2 separate regions of the Homo sapiens genome follow, and region 2 is linked to region 1. The links come from fine-mapping of genetic effects on gene expression. A gene starts in region 1. The other region holds a variant in brackets. All regions are shown on one strand. Distances are between the middles of the regions.

What was found. PIP is the estimated chance that this variant, and not a neighbour inherited with it, causes the effect. A credible set is the group of variants that fine-mapping cannot tell apart.
Region 2: its variant is the best candidate, but not a certain one, in a credible set for the expression of IL1RN in sun-exposed skin (GTEx, PIP 0.71).

Annotation. Positions count from the first base shown.
Region 1 is chr2:113,124,931-113,130,175 of GRCh38, reverse strand. It overlaps IL1RN (interleukin 1 receptor antagonist), which reads right to left and starts at 2,578. Exons shown (of 4, transcript NM_173842.3): 1 at 2,436-2,578; 2 at 512-600. The coding sequence starts at 2,551.
Region 2 is chr2:113,439,918-113,445,162 of GRCh38, reverse strand. It overlaps ZNG1B (Zn regulated GTPase metalloprotein activator 1B), which reads right to left. Exons shown (of 15, transcript NM_172003.3): 2 at 3,726-3,812; 3 at 1,300-1,396; 4 at 108-199. Among named protein-coding and RNA genes, the nearest start is that of ZNG1B, 4.8 kb to the right of the region's middle. The variant A/G (reference allele first, on the strand shown) is at 2,771.

The DNA.
Region 1 (5,245 bases):
AGTTGATATCATCCCACTGAAGGGAAAGCTGAGGAACAGAGTGGGTGAAGCTTCTTCAAGGTCATCCAGCTTGTTTAATGTGTGGACCAGAATATGGCTGAGTATGGTGTCCAGGAATAAGAGACATAGCTCAACCTTATACATGGTGGATTAATTTGGGATTGAGTTAGGGTTTGAACAACATAGGAACATGGAGCCTTAATAGGCACTTGAGGAAGGGAATGGTCAACCTTGCCTTCTGGTATTTGCCCTTCCCAGCTGTGGCCCTGGGACCACTGTGCCTATAGGCACTGACCTCTGACCTAGACTCTACCTCTCCACACCCTCTTCAGGCTGCCCTCATATGTGCCCTTCAGTAGCCAGGCCCTCCCAGCTTCAAACTTGAATACAAAGACCCAACAAGGATTAGGACATTGCACCTAGGGTTTGTGCAGGCAGGCCATGCTGCTGCAGACAGACGGGCAAAGTGACGTGATGCCCACATACATTGGCTTTCCTGGCAACCACTCACCTTCTAAATTGACATTTGGTCCTTGCAAGTATCCAGCAACTAGTTGGTTGTTCCTCAGATAGAAGGTCTTCTGGTTAACATCCCAGATTCTGAAAAGGAAAAGGACTCAGCTGTAGTGCACAGCCACCATGTGCCCAGCCTTGTGCTTGGCACCTTCCTGTGTCCCCCAGAACTTGTCAAATTTGCATCCAGCTCTTCCAGGGGTATAGTATTTTAGTATACCCACGGCATGCATGGATGAGAAGACTGAGGCTGACAATGGTTAAGAGGCAGGCCCAACCCTCACAGCTGGTGAGCAGTGAGCCCACATTTGACTCCCCTCCTTACTTGCTTCCCATCTGAGATTCCCAGGGAAGGCACTTCTGTTTCAGCAAAGCATGCTGTAGAGCAGCAACATCCAAAAGAACTTTCTGGGATGCAAAAATGTTCTGTAGCTGCACTGCCCAATAGGGTGGCCACTAACCACATGTGGCTATTGACCTCTTTAAATGTGGATAGTGTGACCAAGGGTCTGGATTTTAAATTTTCTTCTATTTTCATTCATTTAAGTATAAATTTAAATAGCCACCTGAGACTAGTGGCTACCATAGCACCTAGGTAGAAGTTTCAAGAGACGGAACACCTTGCAGCTAACTCGCTCTGAGTCTGAGACCAGAAGGGTCTTTCCCTAGAGCCTTTCCTCCATTAGCTGGTGACCTGCTCAGAGTCCTGCAGGAGCAGCTACCCTTGGGAACAACCCGGCTTCCTCTCTACCTCAGCCAGTGACCTGATTCTGGGTCCCAATCCTTTCTTCTTGGTAAAGGGCCTCTCTGGTTGAGAGCAGGACTCAAAGCTGTGAGACGTAATAAACAGAGCTCTGGCCAGCCTGACCTGGGACCTGTGCCTCACCTCTTCACCTGTGAAGTGTGGCTAACTGTACCCACCTCATCAGGTGGCTCTGAAGAGCCCACATGCTCGACGAGGGGTGGCCAGGCAAACCAAAGTGCTTTGCATATGGCAGCATTGGCCTGTTTGTGATTATCCTAGTTTCTAGATTTAGCCTCAGTCTGGAGGGATAAACATCACCTGCTGGGGCCTCCAGGAGGATCTCCTGGAGCTTCTAGCTGATCAGAGCAGGGAGAGGCAACCTAGGGAAGCAGACAGTCCCCATATCTGGAAGGGAGAGACTTGTCACTCATACACCCACAGAGCCCGACTTGCAGCCTCGGCCCAGACAAACATAAAGGTCAGAGTGGGGGAGAAGTCACCCCAACATGATTTCACTGCTGGAATGTCACACTGCAGAGGGCATGCACAAGCAGTCCTGTCATTTCTATCAGCATCACATCTTTACAATAGTGATGGTCTCACAAAGCCGATTCCATTTTCAAATCATAATGGTTTTCAGGCTCTTTACAATGCACGGAATACTGTTACGCTATTATCTGTGCATTTAATTTTCACAACAACCCTGTAAGGCACACAAGGAGTTATCGTGACTCTCATGTCACAGATGTCACAGACGGGGAAACCAAGGTCCCTGGAGAGTGGGACCCTCCGACATGTCAGCACAGACAGGCCTTGCCCATATCAGTCTGGGCCTTCGGGCTGTGCCCCTGGTGCCCCTCTCTGCTTCTCTGTCAGCACATTCAACTAGGCCTGAATCGCAGTCCCACTCCTTGGCATGCATCTATTACTCACTGGGTTCCTGAGTCTCTGGGAAAGTAAGACAGCCCTCCGGTCGCACTATCCACATCTGGGATATTTTGAAACACAAGTCCTGAAGCCCATGCATGTAACAGCCTCTTTCTTGAATAATGGACATCCTCTCCAGCCCAAACCCAGTTCTCAGGCCCTCTGGGGCCTGGCAGCCCCTGGCAGCTGTGATATGTTTCCAGTCTCCAGCTGATCCACCCTCACCTTCTCCTCCTTGGGGTAGCCTTACCTGAAGGCTTGCATCTTGCTGGATTTTCTCCCAGAGGGTCGGCAGATCGTCTCTGAATGGAACAGGAAGAGGAGGAGAGTGATTAGGTGACTGCGGAGGCCTCTGCAGATTTCCATTCTGTGACTGCAGCAAGGCAGTGGACTGCCATTGCGGGCCCAGAGTTGTGGTTTATAAAGAAATAGTCACTCACCCAAGCTAGGCGTCTGCCACCCTGCCCCACTGCGAGAAGCGGAAATACCCTCCTCGCATTTCCAAAAAGAGAAACCCTTGCTGTTGTCACTTTCAACCCCACTAAGTGTCGCAATGGAGTGTTGTAACTGATTCCCTCCCCTTTTTCCCCTGTGCAATTTCCCCAAAATTAAGATTTCTATTTCCCCTTCATTGAGTTCCTGGGAAGAAGAGCACAATGGAAACCAAACTCCCTACTGTTCCTGACAGGTACCCAGAGTCTGTTTGTTGACTTTTTAAAAAACAGATTTGAGCAGAAAGGCCGTTTTTTCATAATAAAATGATAGGGCTCCCTGCACATGGGACAGTCTCATGTCACTTTGTGTTCTTTGAAAAATGGACAGCCTTGGACTCCGGACCATAGATTGGCAAACATTCTGTAAAGGACGAGATAGTAAATATTTTAGGTTTTGTGCGCCACGATTACTCAGCTCAGCTGTCTGTTTCACAAAAGGACGTTGGCAATCCATAAATCAATAAGCCTAGCTGTGTTCCACTACAACTTTCTTTGCAAAAGCGGGGAATGGACCGGATTTGGCCTGAGTCTGCTGACCCCTGATGTAAAGTGAGTCCTTCTGAGAGGTGCTTTGAAATCAACTCTTTTCCCACTATCTTACATCTTTAAAGTTATGGTCTCGGGACGATGACATAAACTCAGCATTTGGACAGGAATGGGTCTAAATTCAACCTCTGCCACTTGCCTTGTGCCACCCGTGTGACCTTGAACAAATCATTTCATTAGTTGAGCCTCTGTCTCTTCACTCTCAGAATGAGGGTGATCATGTCTTCTTCACAAATGGATGGAAGGAAGGAAGGGAAAGAGGGAGGGAGGGAGGGAGGAAGCAGGTGTAGGAAGGAAGAGGAGAACTTCTGGCCCATAATGGGCTCTGATACACATTAACTTCCTTACTTACAATATTCTAGACCCGGGGCCTGGAACATTAGGAAAAAGGTAAGCATGCTCCTATTTTATGGGTAGGAAAAAGTTGAAGAGAATTTCTGCATGATCTACAGGATGGACAGTGCTGGTGCAGAAGCATACGTTGCAGTGTTTTAGAGCTGGACGGGAGCTTGGCAATCATCCTGTCCCAACCTGGCATTGTTTTCAAGAAGACTCAGAAAGATTTAGACAAAAAAGGGATCTGTCCAAGGTCACACAGCTTGCTGATGGCAAAAGTATGCAGAGAAATCCAGGTCTTCTGACCTCCAGCCCCGGGCTTTATTAACAAATGCTTCAGAAACTTTAAACCCTAATATTCATCACACTCTGGGAAGAGGCAAATAAGTAGGCAGGTTAATATACATCACCCCCTTCAGCTAGTCCTCACAAAAACAAACAAATAAACAAAAAAAATGTCTCCTTGGCCCTCAAAGGAAGACACTATTTCTCAAACGTGTTTCAAAAATGATGGCTGGGCTGGGCACGGTGGCTCACACCTGTAATCCCAGCACTTGGGGAGGCTGAGGTGGGCGGATCACCTGAGGTCAGGAGTTCAAGACCAACCTGACCAACATGGTGAAACTCCGTCTCTACTGAAAATGCAAAAATTAGCAGGGATGGTGGCATGTGCCTGTAATCCCAGCTACTCGGGAGGCTGAGGCAGGAGGATCACTTGAACCCAGGAGATGGAGGTCGCAGTGAGCCAAGATCACGCCACCGCACTCCAGCCTAGGCAACAGAGTAAGACTCCATCTCCAAAACAAAAACAAACAAAAAAGTATGAATGACTCACTCAAGGTGATGCAGCTTGTGAGGGCAGCACAGGAATACAGACAAAATGTCAAAATATTTACTACTACAGCAGTTGATCTTGATGAGTCTATTTTCAACCAACAAATCAGAATCTTTCTCTCAACCAACACATCTTCCAACCAACAAATCAGAATCAAACACTTTGTGTCCAGAGAGTTAATCCTTCAAAGGAGGAAGACTATGAATGAATTTCCCAAAGGTTTAAAGAATGTATCCTTCAGAGGAAATAGAACATTTCTGCAAAATTGTGTCACCTCCCTGGGTGATGGATTTTTTCAGGCAAAATGGCATGTCTGTATTCCTGTACTGTCCTCATAAACAGTGTGACCTTGAGTGAGTCACCCATCCTTTTTGAAACACGTTCAAGAAACAGTGTCTTCCTATGAGGGCCAAAGAAGAATTTTGTTTATTCATTTGTTTGTTTTTGTGAGGACTAGCTGAAGGAGATGATGTATATGAACCTGTCTACTTATTTGCCTCTTCCAGAGTGTGTTGAATATTAGCGTTTAAAATTTCCAAAGTATTTGCTAATAATCAAGTGTATCACTTTATTCTCACACTCTCTGAAAGAGAAGGCAGCTAGCACCTGACTATGATAGGTTCTCTCCTATTTGTCTTTCTTCAACCCTCCGGAATTGGAAGACCATAATTCTCTCAACAATGTCCTTACAGATTGCAGAAGAGAAGTGGCTTGCCAAGGTAGGGTGGAGAGTTCCATCCTGGCCACTGCCTTCAGACAGCGTTTCAAGTAAAAAGCCCCACCCACACTGCGGCTCCTGGGTAAATGTTTCTCTGACCCCAGTCTGAATTCAGAGAGTATTCTCCTGGA
Region 2 (5,245 bases), 310 kb before region 1:
TTAATACTAACAAAAGCTTTAATCCTCATGTTAGATATTCCTCTAATACATCTATTTACAGTATATCACAGAACTATATTCTGGTTATTAACAACCTCACTTCTTACCTGGGTCTGCCAATCCAGTGGTCTCTAACAGTATGTAATCAAATTTCCCCTTCTTTTGCATCAAATTCTCAATAGCTCTAAGGCCATTGTCCCTGGAGAATACCAAAACATCATTTACAGTTAATTACCTAAATATTTTGAAGTGATTATTATAAACACTTTAAAATATATTCAACAACCCAAGACAAAAGTACCCTTAGGAATGTGAAAATTTAACTCACTTCTAACCTTCTAACAAAATGTCCGTCCCATATTTACCAGTGAGAAAACAATAGATGCATATATATAATAGGTAAAAAGAAATCATATACATAATAATACTTTATTAAAATTAAAAGCAGAGGAAACTTTATCTGACCAAGTATCTTTTTATAGCTTTATGAAATTTTTAAAAACCAACATACAAAATAATGATAAAATTTATTAACTATAGTAGTTTAATATAATAGCTAAAGGGACACTGATATTAAACACCATATAATTCTATTTTACATTAGGATGCAAGGTTTTAATTTCCTTTTTTCTTATTTTATCAAAAGTGAAGGAAAATCCTTAATAGATTATATTTTGGTTGTTCAAGAAAGTCTGTTATAATTTTATCCTTGCCAAAACATTTGACACAAAGTCAAATACCTAAGGGAGTAAATGATGCCGAAGAGATTTAATTCACTAGAATACACAAAATTAACAGTACAAGTAGTCATTTTTATAATTCATTCAACAAATATTTGAGTGCTACTATGTGTTGGGTAACTCTTCTAGGGTCTATGGTAGACTAGTGAACACTGTCCTTGAAAACTTAACTAGTAGAACATAATGTAAGGTTTTTCTCTTTTTTGATAGTCATTTATTTTTTTTATAAGGTTGAACACTTAGAAATATGACCAATGACAGATTAAATTCAGAATAATCATTTTTTACATATGAGACTTTCATGCACTAGAGATTAAATAAGCCCTGACATCAAAAGCAATAAAAACTCAATAAAAGGACCAAAACATTAGAGCAGATAGAAAAGACAGCAAGAAACACTTTAAGAAAATGCTTCCTAATAAGTTTATTTTCTATTTGTTTGAAAATACAATGAAGCAAACTGTGTAAATTCAGTTAAATTACTCAAGAAAATTAAAGCTGGAAATATAATCAATAAACATTTCTAGTAAACCATGTACACAGTAAACACATTCCTCACTTCACTGAACAGCAGAGGCAACCGTTTCTAAGTTCCAGCCACTCTTCATAGAGCTCTCCACCTTGGCTGACAGCTAAGGATTTCTCCAGCGCACTTCCTAGAATAATTAACAAACAGCACTCTTTAGCTTATGTCCATTAGCCAACAAAAAACAAAGATGAGGATAACTCAATAATGGAGATCTTAAAGCAGAAACTGCATTTTATAACTTATATTCTTTCATTTTATTCATGCAGCCTCGATATCTAAATTACAGTACACTACATTATGTTAGCTTTTATTTAAGATGACTTAAGCCCTGAAAAAGACACATCCTAAACTGATAAACATACCTACTTCCTCCTTAGGCCTCTTACTTGGCCACCCCCATTTCTTAATAAAGTAGCTATCTTGAAGGCATTTTTTTCTTGTCCAGGGTAAACTTTCTAAATAGACTAGTATGTTTTATATACTGGATTTTGTATGCCCTTCAACCTCTTAAGAGACTGCCTTATCTATCTTTTTCTTTTCATTCTTCTTCTAAATTGTTTCTGTTAGACAAACTGCTGAATATTCCCAATGAGTAAAAACCCTAGTTCATCTTGAGGAAGGTTTTTGGCCAGTGTACCATGTGCTCATTTAAAAATTAAACTTACAGGGAGGCCAAGGCGGGCGGATCACGAGGTCAGGAGATCGAGACCATCCTCGCTAACACAATGAAACCTCATCTCTACTAAAATTACAAAAAATTAGCCAGGTGTGGTAGCGGGCGCCTGTAGTCCCAGCTACTCAGGCGGCTGAGGCAGGAGAATGGCGTGAACCCGGGAGGCGGAGGTTGCAGTGACCCGAGACTGTGCCACTGCACTCCAGCCTGGGCAACACAGCGAGACTCCATCTCAAAAAAAAAAAAAACCTAAACTTTTAGTCAAATTCACATATTTTCCTAGCAATACTTACTTAAGAAAGAATAAACTATATTTGAAATGCTTGTTATCTATAAGAATTATTTTAAATGTTTTACTTTTCCTCTAATAAAGAAATATACCAAACGGTGAAGTTCTAAAAGCCCACTAAGCAAATGAGCTCCCATAAAATCGAGTAGTTTTACACTTACGTATTTTTTATATTTCAGCTAGGTATTAATAAAGAGCTTCTAAAGAGGTTGCTACAGAATTCGGACTATATACAGAACATTAAGGAAACATGAAGAAAAGTATTGAGAATGCTGTGAAAAATAAAATTGCGAAAATGATCCAGGAAAAAATAAAGAAAATAGTAAGAATAAATGTAATCAGTGTGCAATAGGTTATTTAATAAGATGATAAAAAAACAGTCTGTTATTAGAAATCTCAGGATTTTTGCCTAAAAAGCACTTTTCTCTTTAGTTTATTAAAACCAGAAATCGAATATAACTGGCTTCCCATCCTGTTCATAAAACCTAGCTCTTTTACTTTTTACAACTGAAAAAAAATAGTACATTTTAAAAGAAATC[A/G]TTTAATAGATATTGTTTTTTGGCTAGAAGTGAGCTTTGATTACAATTCATACTTATGAAGAAAAACTTCTATAAAGATAACAGAAGTATTGTGTCTAGAGCTATTTTTTTGACTACAGTTTAATATTTCAGTTGAGAAGTTAAGCACACTTATTTTCACAGATAACTTAAAATACATGAGGATAAAGACCATATGTTTACCTTTATTTTTAAAATATTGAGTTTTAACTGCATTGCAGATAATAAACATTAAACAAAGTTAACTAATAACAGAAGCATTTTCAAGTATTTTTCATGAGTTGCAATAGAGTCCATACAAAAGTGCCTTCCTAATTCCTAAAAAAAACATTTTTTGGCCAGGCATGGTGCCTCATGCCTGTAATCCCAGCAACTTTGGGAGGCCGAGGCAGGTGGATCACAAGGCCAGGAGCTCAAGACCATCCTGGCCAACATGGTGAAACCCTGTCTCTACTAAAAATACAAAAATTATCTGGGCATGGTGGCGCACGCCTGTAGTCCCAGCTACTCGGGAGGCTGAGGCAGGAGAATCACTTTAACCCAGGAGACAGAGGTGGCAGTGAGCTGAGATTGCACCACTGCACTCCAGCCTGGCGACAGAGAGAGACTCCATCTCAAAAAAAATAAAATAAAATAAAAAATAAACGTTTTTTCATATGTCTAGATTTTTACTTCTGGAGTCATTTATTTCATGTAAAAATGTAGTTTAATTCTGTTAATAAGAATTCCAAAGTTATACAAAATAAAATTTTATTAAAACTAATTTCAGTATCTCAACCCATATAAATCTTAACAGAAATTAATCCAACTTTTCTAAAGCTATCCACATCAATACAATACCTTGCATTTTCATTTTTAAATATGGAATAGCAATTCACCAGAGGAATAAACAGTCACACAAAATCTTGCAACATGACATTTATTGAACTTTACTTACCTTCCCCAAATTCATTTAAAATGACCGCTACTCTTTTACTATGTTGCTCTGTCAAAATATAGTTCAGAAGTGTTGTCTTCCCAGCACCTATAAAACATATTTTTTGTAAATAAAAAAATTCAAAATAATTTTAAAGATACAAAAAACATATAAAGAATCCTAACGTTTTTGAGAATTTGCGTGCTATTTTTCATATATTATTTTAGTATAGAATATCCTAGAGGATAAGATTAAAGCATCCTTTGAAACCTGTTGCAAAATACTTTATGTAGACATAAAATTTTATAAATATTTACAAACACTCCTACAAGTTGAAACAGTTTCTTCAACCTAGCCTAACCTTCCCTAAAATTTACACACAATCTTTTATTTATAATGACCTTTTATTTCAACATTAACAAGACGCAACTTCAGGCTGACTATATGGCTACTTATAGTATGCTTTAAACAATCTATAAAAGTTTTTATGAAATGGGGAATAGAGCCAGGTAGTGTCAACAATGGACAGAATGTTCAGTAAGATAAATTCATAAAGCTATACCAACTTTATCCAGCAGGTGGCATATAAAACCCAATATGTCAATCTCCAGTAGAAAAAAAATAGTCTTGTGAACCGTACACACTAAAATTCATAGAGGAAAAAAAGAAAATCCTAACTGCATAGTATTGTAGTTCAATTGTATGACTATATCATTTCTTTATCTTTTTTTTTTGTTGGACATTTGGTTTGTTTCCAGTGTTTTACTATTACAGTGCTGCTAAAAACTTTTACATGTAGGCTATACATGTCTTCTGAAATACATTAAGTTTTCTAGTATATAACTAGGAAGATTTTACAGAGTATTAGGGTATTAATATCTTTTAGGTCATATTCCTTTCAAAGCTTTTTAAGAGATGAAGGCTTATATTTAGAGTACTTTAGGAAGCTCAACATCACAAAAATATGAAGTATAGAATGGGAGAGACTTAGGGCAATGAGGAAAATCTTAAAACCAGTCCAAGCCTGAGACAGAGGCCCTGAACATGAGTGTTTCACAGGGCAGTGATGTGAAAACTGAAAGGAAAGGGTGAATGTAAGAAATCTTCTAAGAGAAGATTTACTAGGGCTTTTTAACCATATTATGAAAAAAAAAACACTTTAAGACATAGCTCATTCATTCGAAGGTTTCTAATACGTTACAGATTTATGCTGAGCCTTGGTGAAAAAGTGAACAAGATAGTCTCTGCCTTCATAGAGCTTAGAAATATTAAGGGGGCCGGGCGCGGTGGCTCACGCCTGTAATCCCAGCACTTTGGGAGGCCGAGGCGGGCGGATCACGAGGTCAGGAGATCGAGACCATCCCGGCTAAAACGGTGAAACCCCGTCTCTACTAAAAATACAAAAAATTAGCCGGGCGTAGTGGCGGGCGCCTGTAGTCCCAGCTACTTGGGAGGCTGAGGCAGGAGAATGGCGTGAACCCGGCAGGCGGAGCTTGCAGTGAGCCGAGATCCCGCCACTGCACTCCAGCCTGGGCGACAGA